Linked DNA regions of Homo sapiens: region 2 is linked to region 1. Evidence: fine-mapped expression QTL. A gene starts in region 1. The other region holds a variant in brackets. All regions are shown on one strand. Distances are from middle to middle.

What was found. PIP is the estimated chance that this variant, and not a neighbour inherited with it, causes the effect.
Region 2: its variant is the best candidate, but not a certain one, in a credible set for the expression of BUD23 in whole blood (TOPMed, PIP 0.88).

What each region holds. Positions count from the first base shown.
Region 1 is chr7:73,681,616-73,686,615 of GRCh38, reverse strand. BUD23 (BUD23 rRNA methyltransferase and ribosome maturation factor) reads right to left here and starts at 3,019. Exons shown (of 12, transcript NM_017528.5): 1 at 2,943-3,019; 2 at 2,812-2,849. The coding sequence starts at 2,990. It overlaps DNAJC30 (DnaJ heat shock protein family (Hsp40) member C30), which reads left to right and starts at 3,163. Exons shown (of 1, transcript NM_032317.3): 1 at 3,163-5,000. The coding sequence starts at 3,193. The coding sequence ends at 3,873. RefSeq lists enhancers at 612-1,461, 1,462-2,311, 3,242-3,411, 3,652-3,741.
Region 2 is chr7:73,705,356-73,710,867 of GRCh38, reverse strand. It overlaps STX1A (syntaxin 1A), which reads left to right. Exons shown (of 10, transcript NM_004603.4): 2 at 1,746-1,823; 3 at 2,180-2,279. Among named protein-coding and RNA genes, the nearest start is that of MIR4284, 3.2 kb to the left of the region's middle. RefSeq lists an enhancer at 2,969-3,721 and a silencer at 3,568-3,777. The variant C/A (reference allele first, on the strand shown) is at 2,745.

The DNA of each region.
Region 1 (5,000 bases):
GTGGACATGGTAAAGGAGTTCTGGGTGAATACTTCCCCCAGACCAAAAAACAAAAAACAAAAAAAAGCCAAGTTAAAAACAAACAAAAAACGGATCAATCATCCCGAGGTACTCTTTTCTGACCCCTTCTAAGTTGGGATCAACAAATTCAACCATTCGAAAGTGACCCCAAAAATTCCATGTAATTCAGGACCATGTTATTTTGTGGTAACAACTTATCATTGCACCAGCTGCCAAGCAGATGTGTAAAAGCAAATCACTTAGCTAGTAATAAACAACCACTGGGATCTGCAACTCTATTAGGCTGGGCTGCTCTAGCACTTGTTGAAAACATTTTCTCCAAAAATTATTCTCCATAGTTTCTCTCATCTAGAAGGATCAACAATGCACAAAAACCTACAGCAGCACTGTCTGTGAGAAACAGAATGTGAGCCACGCATGGCTTCCCAATAGCCAGTCAAGAAGAAACTTAAAGAAACAGGTAAAAGAAACTGGAGTCATATTTTTTTTTTTTTTTGAGACGGAGTCTTGCTCTGTTGTCGCCCAGGCTGGAGTGCAGTGGCGCGATCTCGGCTCACTGCAAGCTCCGCCTCCCGGGTTAATGCCATTCTCCTGCCTCAGCTTCCCCAGCAGCTGGGACTACAGGCGCCCGCCGCCACGCCCGGCTAATTTTTTTTTTTGCATTTTCAGTAGAGACGGGGTTTCACCATGTTAGCCAGGATTTCTCTATCTCCTGACCTTGTGATCCGCCAGCCTCGGCCTCCCAAAGTGCTGGGATTACAGGCGTGAGCCACCGCGCCCGGCCTCTGGAGTCATATTTTTAACCCCATATATTTAATAACGTATTTCCATTAACTCAATATGTTCAAAATATCACTTCAACATATAATCGACATAAAAAGTCATCAGCAAGGACCGGGCCTGGTGGCTCACGCCTATAATCCCAGTACTTTGGGAGGCCAAGGCGGGTGGATCCCGTGAGCAACTTACCAGATCCCTGGGCAACATAGCAAAACTCCCTCTCCACAAAAAAATTACACAAACTAGTCGGGCGCGAGGAGGCGCGCCTGTAGTTCCAACTACCCGGGAGGCGAGGTTGCAGCCACTGCAGCACTTCGGCCTGGGCGATAGAATGAGAGCCTGTCTCACACGCACAAAAAATTATCAAGCTATTTCAGCCGGTGTGGTGGCGAGTGCCTCTAGTTCCGGCTGCTGGGGAGGATGGCTTGAGGCTGCAGTCGGCAGGGATCATGCCATGGCACTCCAGCCTGGGCAATAGAGAGACCCTGTCCCTAAAAAAAAGAAACAGTATCCAATAGCTATTTATTTATTTATTGAGTCAGGGTCTCACTCTGTCGCCAAGGCTGGAGTGCAGTGGTGCGATCGCAGCTCACTGCAACCTCTGCCTCTCAGGTTCAAGTGATTCTCCTGCCTCAGCCTCCCGTAGGCCCGGCTAATATCTGTATTTTCAGTAGAGACGGGATTTCACCATGCTGGCCAGGTTGGTCTCGGAATTCCTGACCTCAGGTGATCCGTCCACCTCCGCCTCCCACAGGGCTGGGATTACTGGTATGAGCCATAGCGCCCGGCCAGTAACCATTTACTGAAATAGGGCTAGTCTCTCAGTGAGAGAGCACGGAAAAACCACAAAGTATCTTTTTTTTTTTTTTTTTTTTTTTTTTTTTTTTTTTTGAAACAAAGTCTTGCTCTGTCGCCCAGGCTGGAGTGCAGTGCCGTGATGTCGGCTCACTGCAACCTCCCCCTCCCGGGTTCAAGCTATTCTCCTGCCTCAGCCTCCCGAGTAGCTGGGGTTACAGAAACCCGCCATCGCGCCCGGCTAATTTTTTCCATTTTTAGTAGAGCTGGAGTTTCGCCATGTTGGCCAGGCTGGTCTCGAACTCCTGACCTCAGGTGATCCGTCTGCCTCAGCCTCCCAAAGTGTTGCGATTACAGGCGTGAGACACCGCGCCAGCTTCCCCCCGCCCCCATCCCCCCCCCTTTTTTTTTTTTTTAACGACTCGAGGTGCGCTGGCTCACGCCTGCAATCCCAACAGTTCGGGAGACGAAGGCGGGAGGATCGCTTGAGCCCTGGGCTTGGGCCACCTTGGGCAACACAGCGAGACCCCATCGCAACAAAAATTTACAAAAAAAAGCCAGGCGTAGTGGCGCGCGCCTGTGGTCCCAACTACTGGAGAGGCAGAGGGGAGCCACCACACCCGGCTAATTTTTTTATTACTTGCGGAGACGGGGGCTCGCTACGTTGCCCAGGCTGGTCTCGAACCCCTGAGCTCAAGCGATCCTCCCGCCTCAGCCTCCCAAAGTGCTGCGATTGCTGAGATTACACGCGTGAGCCACTCCCACCTGGCTACAACTCAGTAGTTATACAAACTACCCTCTATGAAATTCAGACAATAATACACCAACTGCTGTCTTGGAGATTTATTGGCAACAAGGCGCCACGATAAGCATCCTACGGCCATTACTTCCTTCCCCCCACCAGGACTGACCCCTCGCCCGTACCCACCGCCCAGCGCCTCTTTTACCACATGTTTAGGACAAATTGTCACATTCGACTTTGAAAACCACCCACGGAAAGCAAGCGCGATCACCCCTACCTCAACGCTGAGGTACCGAGGCCCAGAGAGGTCGGCAACTTAAAGTTGATTTACCAGAGACAGAAATCGGCACCCACCCGGGTCCTTCCCTTCCCGCACCCCCAAATTCTACGGCCTTTCCGGGCAACGCCAGCAACAGGGGCAACTTGCCGCTTCCCGACCCCCGGACGCCCCGCAGTATTCAGGCTCCCCTCACTTGCGAACGTATTTCCGGGCTTCTGTCTCGTCATAAAACTGCGAAAAAGAGAAAATGGCATGTAGAGGAATAATTCAGACGCGGTGGCCGCAGAAGTGGGGAGAGGGGTGTCCGCGGGCCCCGGGACTTACCAGCTCTGGGGGTCCGCCATGCTCCGGACGCCGGCCGCGGGACGCCATTCTCACGCCTCAGCAGCACACCTGCGACTGGCGCCTGCCGGCACCCGGTTTTTATGTCATCAGCCCGGCGACCGCTTAGTAATACGCATGTTCCACCCCCACGACCGCCCCGCCCCCCCCTTTACGTGACTGGCCACAGGGCGACCAACCGACTCCTCTCATTGGCCGGTTTCTCTTGCACCGCCTGCCGAATCAATTCAACATGGCAGCCATGCGCTGGCGATGGTGGCAGCGGCTGTTACCTTGGAGGTTGCTGCAGGCCCGTGGCTTTCCACAAAATTCTGCACCCAGCCTGGGCCTAGGAGCGAGGACTTATTCCCAGGGCGACTGCTCGTATTCGCGCACGGCGCTGTATGATCTGCTCGGCGTCCCCTCCACAGCCACGCAGGCCCAAATCAAGGCGGCTTACTACCGTCAGTGCTTTCTCTACCACCCGGACCGCAACTCCGGGAGCGCGGAGGCCGCCGAGCGCTTCACGCGCATCTCCCAGGCCTACGTGGTGCTGGGCAGTGCCACCCTCCGTCGCAAGTATGATCGCGGCCTACTCAGCGACGAGGACCTGCGCGGACCTGGCGTCCGGCCCTCCAGGACGCCCGCACCCGACCCCGGCTCGCCGCGTACCCCGCCGCCCACCTCTCGGACCCACGACGGTTCTCGGGCCTCCCCCGGCGCCAACCGCACGATGTTCAACTTTGACGCCTTCTACCAGGCCCACTACGGGGAACAACTGGAGCGGGAACGGCGCCTGAGGGCCCGGCGGGAGGCCCTTCGCAAACGGCAGGAGTATCGGTCCATGAAAGGCCTCCGCTGGGAGGATACCCGAGACACGGCTGCCATTTTCCTCATCTTTTCAATCTTCATCATCATCGGCTTTTATATTTAATCGGAGAGAGAAGGGAAGGGGAGTGTCCCCAGCCAACCCCCCAGAAACGGCCTTTTTTCCTGCCTCTGAACCCTTGGCCATTGATAGTCTACCTTTGCTGGGATCCGAAGGAACTGTACTCCCCCTGCCCTCCCCGACCCGCCCAGCTTAGCCGATGACCTGCACATCGCTCCACTGTGGTCCAGAAAAGGAGGCCTTTCGATGTCTGAGAAAGAGGCCCCACGCTGTAGAGTCCCGAAAGCCCAGGAGTGAAGGGGGTTCCTGGAGTCTCTAGGGTGCTTCTTCCAGAGTCTGTCTTCTTGCTTCCAGATGTGGTCAACTTCTGGAACACTCGCTGTAGCTTTATTGTTTAGCCCCAAGCAAGATTTATCTCCTCCTGCCCCGCATGTGTATGGTGGGCCTCTGTAACCTTGAAATGTGCAATGTGACCAATTGTTGACTACCAAAAGAAAAGGTCTGGGGTTGTACGAAACTTGTCTTTCTGTGACTTCCCCAAGCCGCAGGTGAGACCTGGTCCAGGGTAAGAATGGGATCGGTGGAGAGCCTGTCGTTCCTCCCGCTAAGGTCAGCCCCCTGGGGCACTCCTCCTTATGTTGATAGCATGTAGGAGTGAGAAAAAGTCATTGAGCATAAGGAATGAGTGTTCCTGTGCCCATATTTAATGTGTGACCTTGGAGAAGTTACTCTGTAGGCATGACAGCAGAGGAGAAAATCATTTGGCATCTTGAGGTCTGTCATGCTTTATTATCCATAGTTTTTGGGGGGTTTTTTGTTTTGTTTTGTTTTTGAGATGGAGTCTTGCGCTCTGTTGCCCAGGCTGGAGTGCAGTGGTGCGATCTTAGCTCACTGCAACCTCCACCTCCCGGGTTCAAGCGATTCTCCTGCCTCAGCCTCCTGTGTAACTGGGATTACAGGCTCCCACCACACCTGGCTAGTGTTTTGTATTTTTAGTAGATACGGGGTTTCACCATGCTGGCCAGACTGAGGTCTCGAACTGCCGACCTCAGGCTGTCTGCCCGTCCAGCCTCCCAAAGTGCTGGGATTGCAGGCATGAGCCACTGCTCCCGGCCCTATTATCCATAGTTCTAATCCACAGGGATTACAGCATAATGCTAGCAGGGCCAGGT
Region 2 (5,512 bases), 24 kb before region 1:
CCCAGCCTGATGAGTCCCATCAGTTCTCTCAGCCCCTCAACCTCCACCTGCCTCCGTCCTGACGCGAGAGCACCGAGGTGGGGTCAGTGCTGAGCTAGTCAGTGGCCACTCCCGTGAGGCACTCAGAAATGAGGTGGGAACAAGATCAGATGTGGTGGTTCACGCCTGTAATCCCAGTACTTTGGGAGGCCGAGGCGGGTGGATCACCTGAGGTCAGGAGTTCGAGACCGGCCTGGCCAACATAGTGAAACCTGTCTCTACTAAAAATACAAAAATTAGCTGGGCATGGTGGCATGCACCTGTAATCCCAGCTACTCGGGAGGCTGAGGCAGGAGAATTGCTTGAACCCAGGAGGTGGAGGTTGCAGTGAGCCAAGATCACACCACTGCACTCCAGCCTAGGTGACAGTGCGAGACTCTCTCAAAAAATAAAAAAATAAAAATAAAAGAGGTGGGAACAAGCCCTGAGCCCCAGGCTGAGAGACCTCAGTCCCTGCCCCAGGGTGGCCACCCCGGATATCCTTGCCTTGGCTGCAGAGAGAGACCTGGCCTTGCCAGCAGCGTGGGCTGACCCTGGCCAACTGGCGGTATGAGGCAGACAGTAATAATTGTGCGCAGCATGCTGGGAAGTCAGAAGTATGATTACCCCTGCCCCACGATGGGGGTGGCTTTTGTACAGCTGGTCCTGGGACAGTGGAGTGGGGCTTGTAACTGTGGCTGAGGCCTAAGGCAGGACCCAAGCCAAGTGGCAACATGACTGTCCCCTTGTGCCTGCTGGGCCCAGGTCTGGGGACTGGAAGGAGGCAGACCGAGGTCCAATGGCAAGACCGACAGGGAGGCCAAGTGCAGTGGCTCACACCTACAATCCCAGTGCTTTGGAAGGCTGAGGCAGGAGGATCGCTTGAGGCCAGGAGTTCAAGACCAGCCTGGGTAACACAGTGAGACCCCCGTCTCTACAAAAATAAAAATTAAATTTAAAAACTGTTTTAAAAAAAGACTCACAGGAGATTCCTAAGAGATCTGATCCGTGCCACCTCGGGACTGGGGTTTAGTGGTGCCCAGGGCTGGGACACAGTAGGCAGGTCTCCCCTTATAGGGCCCACTCTGGAAAGGGAGCTTGGGACCTCTGGGCTCCACCTGAATTAAAACCACTGGAGCCAGGCATGGTTGTGGAAACCTATAATTCCAGCTACTCGGGATGCTGAGTTGGGAGGATCGCTTGAGCCCAGGTGTTTAAGGCTGCAGTGAGCTGTGATTGCACCCCTGCACTCCAGCCTGGGTGACACAGCAAGACCTCAACTCTACAGATGTGTGTATGTGTTTGTGTGTGTGTGTGTAAACCACAGGGCCAGGAGAGTAGAGAATGCACTTTCCAGGCAGCTGTCCTAGGGGCCTAGGGGACCCAGAGGGCCCAGACAGAGCGGCCGGCCCCAGGCTCGCTTGCCTCCCCAGCCACAGGGAGGGGGCAGGCAGATAGGTGAGGGAGGAAGTCCCTGGCCCAGAGGCTGAGACTTGGCCTTGACACCAGTGTATCAGGCAAGGTTCCTCTCTCTGTGCCGGGCCCCCAGTGGTCCTCCAGATCTTACTGTGGCTGGGAGCGGAACAGCCAGGCCTGTTCTTGTCCCTGCCCAGAGGCCCCCAGGGAGAGGGGGAGGGGCAGGGCCCTGGCGCTGTACCCTGGGCACCTGCGTGTGTACAGGTGGGTCCTGTACATACGTCCACTTATGTGTGCACAACCCCGCACAGGCCAAGGACAGCGATGATGATGATGATGTCGCTGTCACCGTGGACCGAGACCGCTTCATGGATGAGTTCTTTGAGCAGGTGGGAGCCAGCACACCCCACCCTTCCCGCACACTGGCAGAACTTGGGGGGCCACTCTCGCCTCTGAGCCAGGTTCAGTGCTCTTTCACACCTGCACCTGGCTCAGCAGCTCCGGGGTGCCAACGAATGAACCGTTTTGAGGGTGAATAGATGGAAGCTCAGAGCGGAGCTAAATCTGGGATCACACTCCTCCCCATCTGGGTCTGGAAGGATGCACCCCCACTGCACCCCAGCACCCGGAGCCTGGCCCGTCCTCCCCCTGAGCCCTGACCGCAGCCCTACTCTGGGCCATCTCTGGGCCCCAGAAGGCTTCTCCCCTGATTTCCTTCTCCTGACCACCTGGCCTTGGTCCGCAGGTGGAGGAGATTCGAGGCTTCATTGACAAGATCGCAGAGAACGTGGAGGAGGTGAAGCGGAAGCACAGTGCCATCCTGGCATCCCCCAACCCCGATGAGAGTGAGTGTGTGGGGCGGGGGACGGGTTTCAGGCCCCACAAGCCTCGGGAAGGGGCTGCTGCCAGGGAGGCCTCACGGGACCTCTGCAGCCTTCATGGCTGGTGGGCTTAGGAGTGTCTGGGCGGGCCAGGGTCGGGAGGGTTTCACGAGAAGCCTTGGGAAATGCAGCTGTCCCCGGCTTGGAACTGGGGGGTCAGTACCCAGCATCCCAGGCCGGCCAGACCAGGTCTCCATGAAAGACTTGGGTGATGGGAGAGGCGATCGGCCCCGCCCTTCCCAGGTGAACTGGCCTTTTTTTTCTTTTTTTCTTTTTTTTTTTTTTTTTTTGAGATGGAGTCTTGCTCTGTCGCCAGGCTGGAGTGCAGTGGCACAATCTCAGCTCACTGCCACCTCTGCCTTCCGGGTTCAAGCGATTCCCCTGCCTCAGCCTCCCAAGTAGCTGGGATTACAGGCACGCGCCACCATG[C/A]CCGGCTAATTTTTTGTATTTTAGTAGAGACGGGGTTTCACCATGTTGGCCAAGACAGTCTTGATCTCCTGACCTCGTGATCCACCTGCTTCAGCCTCCCAAAGTGCTGGGATTACAGGCATGAGCCACCGCGCCCAGCCGAACTGGCTTTTTTCCTTTTTTCTTTTCTTTTTTCTTTTTTTTTTTTTCAAGACGGAGTCTTGCTCTGTCACCCAGGCTGCAGTGCAGTGGTGCCATCTCGGCTCACTGCAACCTCCGCCTCCCAGGTTCAAGCAATTCTCCTACGTCAGCCTCCCAAGTAGCTGGGATTACAGGCATGCGCCACCACGCCCGGCTAATTTTTGGTATTTTTAGTAAAGATGGGGTTTCTCCATATTGGTCAGGCTGGTCTCGAACTCCCGACCTCAGGTGATCCGCCCGCCTCGGCCTCCCAAAGTGCTGGGATTACAGGCATGAGCCCCCACGCCCAGCCCCAAGAAGGTATTTTTTTTCATTTCGAACTGGCTTTTTTCTAAGGCAACTGGGCTGGCTGCAGCCCTGGGCTTCTGGGAGCGAGGGAAGGAAGGAGGGAAGGAGGAAGCTGTCTGTGATCAATAGGAAGGCCTCTCGGTCCAGCCCCGCCCCTCCCCTCGCCTCCCAGGGGAGCAGATGGCAGCTCTAAGTCGTCAGCGCTGTGGGAGGGCAAGCTGGCCAAGCAGGCAGAGCTTCCGGAAGGAGCTGGCAGCCCTGGCACCTGGCCATGTGGCACCCCGGGGCGGGCATTCTCAGGGCTCCAGGAAGTCACCCCTCTCCCTCCACACTGGGAGCCTGTGTGTCAGGCTCGCACTCTGTCCCCAGACAGGTCCCCCTGACCCGGTCCTCATGTTCCTGTTGAGATGTTGTTTACTACACTGAGAGATGCCAGGCTGATGGCATAGGTGCCCTTCCCTGGAGGGGGGCTCACCATGAGCCCCAGGGATGCAGCCATCAGGTGTTTGAGGGAGGCAAGCGCTGGCCACCCAGGTGCCCGGGGTCAGATTTTCTTCTCACCTCCAGCACGGCCTCCTGGTCTATGACCCCTCACCCCCAAGCCCACTGGCATCTTCAAGAACCCAGAGTAAATCTTTTCACAGCCCCAAAGTGTGCATGAACCCAGGTCAGTGCCACACCAACTAAGCCAGTGCCCCGCCCTCAGAAGGCAAAATGGGTCAGGTGGGAGCAGGGTGGACTGCCTCAGGAAGGGCAGGAGGGAGAGAGGGACGCCCAGGGCTCACCACGCTGAGCTCCTTGCCTGAGAGATTTGTTGGATGGCAGCATGAGACGGATGTCTGTGCGCCCAGAGGTATCTGGGTCACTGTGTGTCCCTCTGTGGGCTGTTCCTGCTCAGGGTCAGGAGGTGGCTGATTGTGGGGTGGGGACGGAGGGCTCTAAAGAGCAGGGGAGTGGGTCTCTCACTGCTGGCAGGTGGGGCGGGCATGGGGCAGCAGAGCTGTCTGCTCCACACCTTGGGCTCCTGCAGGCCACCTCCTGCACCGTCTCCTGCTGCGGTGTCATGCACAGTCATAGGGACCGGTTCTGAGTCACCACCCGTGAGCTGAGCAGTTGAGACCTGGCGGAGTCCCAGGCTCTCGCTAAGAGGAGGGGGCTCATGTTGGGGGTTCTAGGGCACAGGCGGCACAGAGTTAAGGAGAAGTCTCAAGGAAAGATGGCAATGAGTGGGGGGCTCTCCCGGGCAAGGCAGGCTCTGCCTCCTCTGGGGGCTGCCATCCGGCCTGGGCTATTTTGGGTCTGAGCAAAAGAGGCTGAGACGTCAGAGCAGCTGGTAACCGACTTTTCCTTTGTTCCTACGGATGAGGCGCCCTCCTCCGCGCCTCGGAACCCCCCCTTCCCCGCTCCACCTCACTGCATTCCACTTGGGAGGTGACCCCATCCGGGGCCTTCCTGATAGACCACTCTCAACACCCCTCCCTGTCCCCTCTAGGACAAACCCCAGCCCCAGGGGCAAGCAGAGGGGCAGGTGGGAAGGTGATAGCCAGAGCTCAGTCCCGGCTTCTCTCGGGGCAGAGTCCTGGGGGTGTCCTGAGACTGGGGTGTTGCCAGGAGCACCCCCAAGGGAGGCAGCTGTCTTGTCCCACTTTTCCATCCAGCTTCTCTCAGGCAGGGGGGCAAGCTGGGCACCCCCATGGCCTCTGCCAGCTTTAGGGAGATGGTTCTAGTTGGAACAAGGGCCACAAAACACTATGTCACCACCCTCGTCCAATTTCACCAGGGCCCCAGCTACCTGCCACGGCCAGGGCCAACTGTGCCCACCTCTTTGGACCTGAGGGCCCACATCAGCGCCCACCCAGGCCATCCACCCCTTGCCCTCTTCCGCCCGCCAGGTACTTAGCACCCAGGGAGGCGTAGCTTTGTGGGAACAGCAAGGTCTGCCCCACCCAGAGTGTTTGCGCATATGACTCAGGGAGTGTGGGGTGGTCCCCTGTCAACCCCCTGCCTGGCTGCGTACCCTCCTGAGCCACCAGGTAACACCAGGTGAGCCCACACCGCCCCCCCACCCCTTCAACTCCAGCAAGCATCAAGTCACTGTTCCCGGCGCCAACTCCAGCATCGCCAGCTGCTCCACAATTACTTCTGCCTTAAATTTAGACCCATCTGTTATCTCCAGGGGGTGGGGGCGCCAGCAAAGGAGGAAGGGAGGCTCCTCCGAAGACAGCACAAGAGGGGGTGAAGCTGCAGCTGGTGCAGCCCTGGCCCAGAATTGGGGGAGGGGGGCGGGCAGGCAGAGCCTT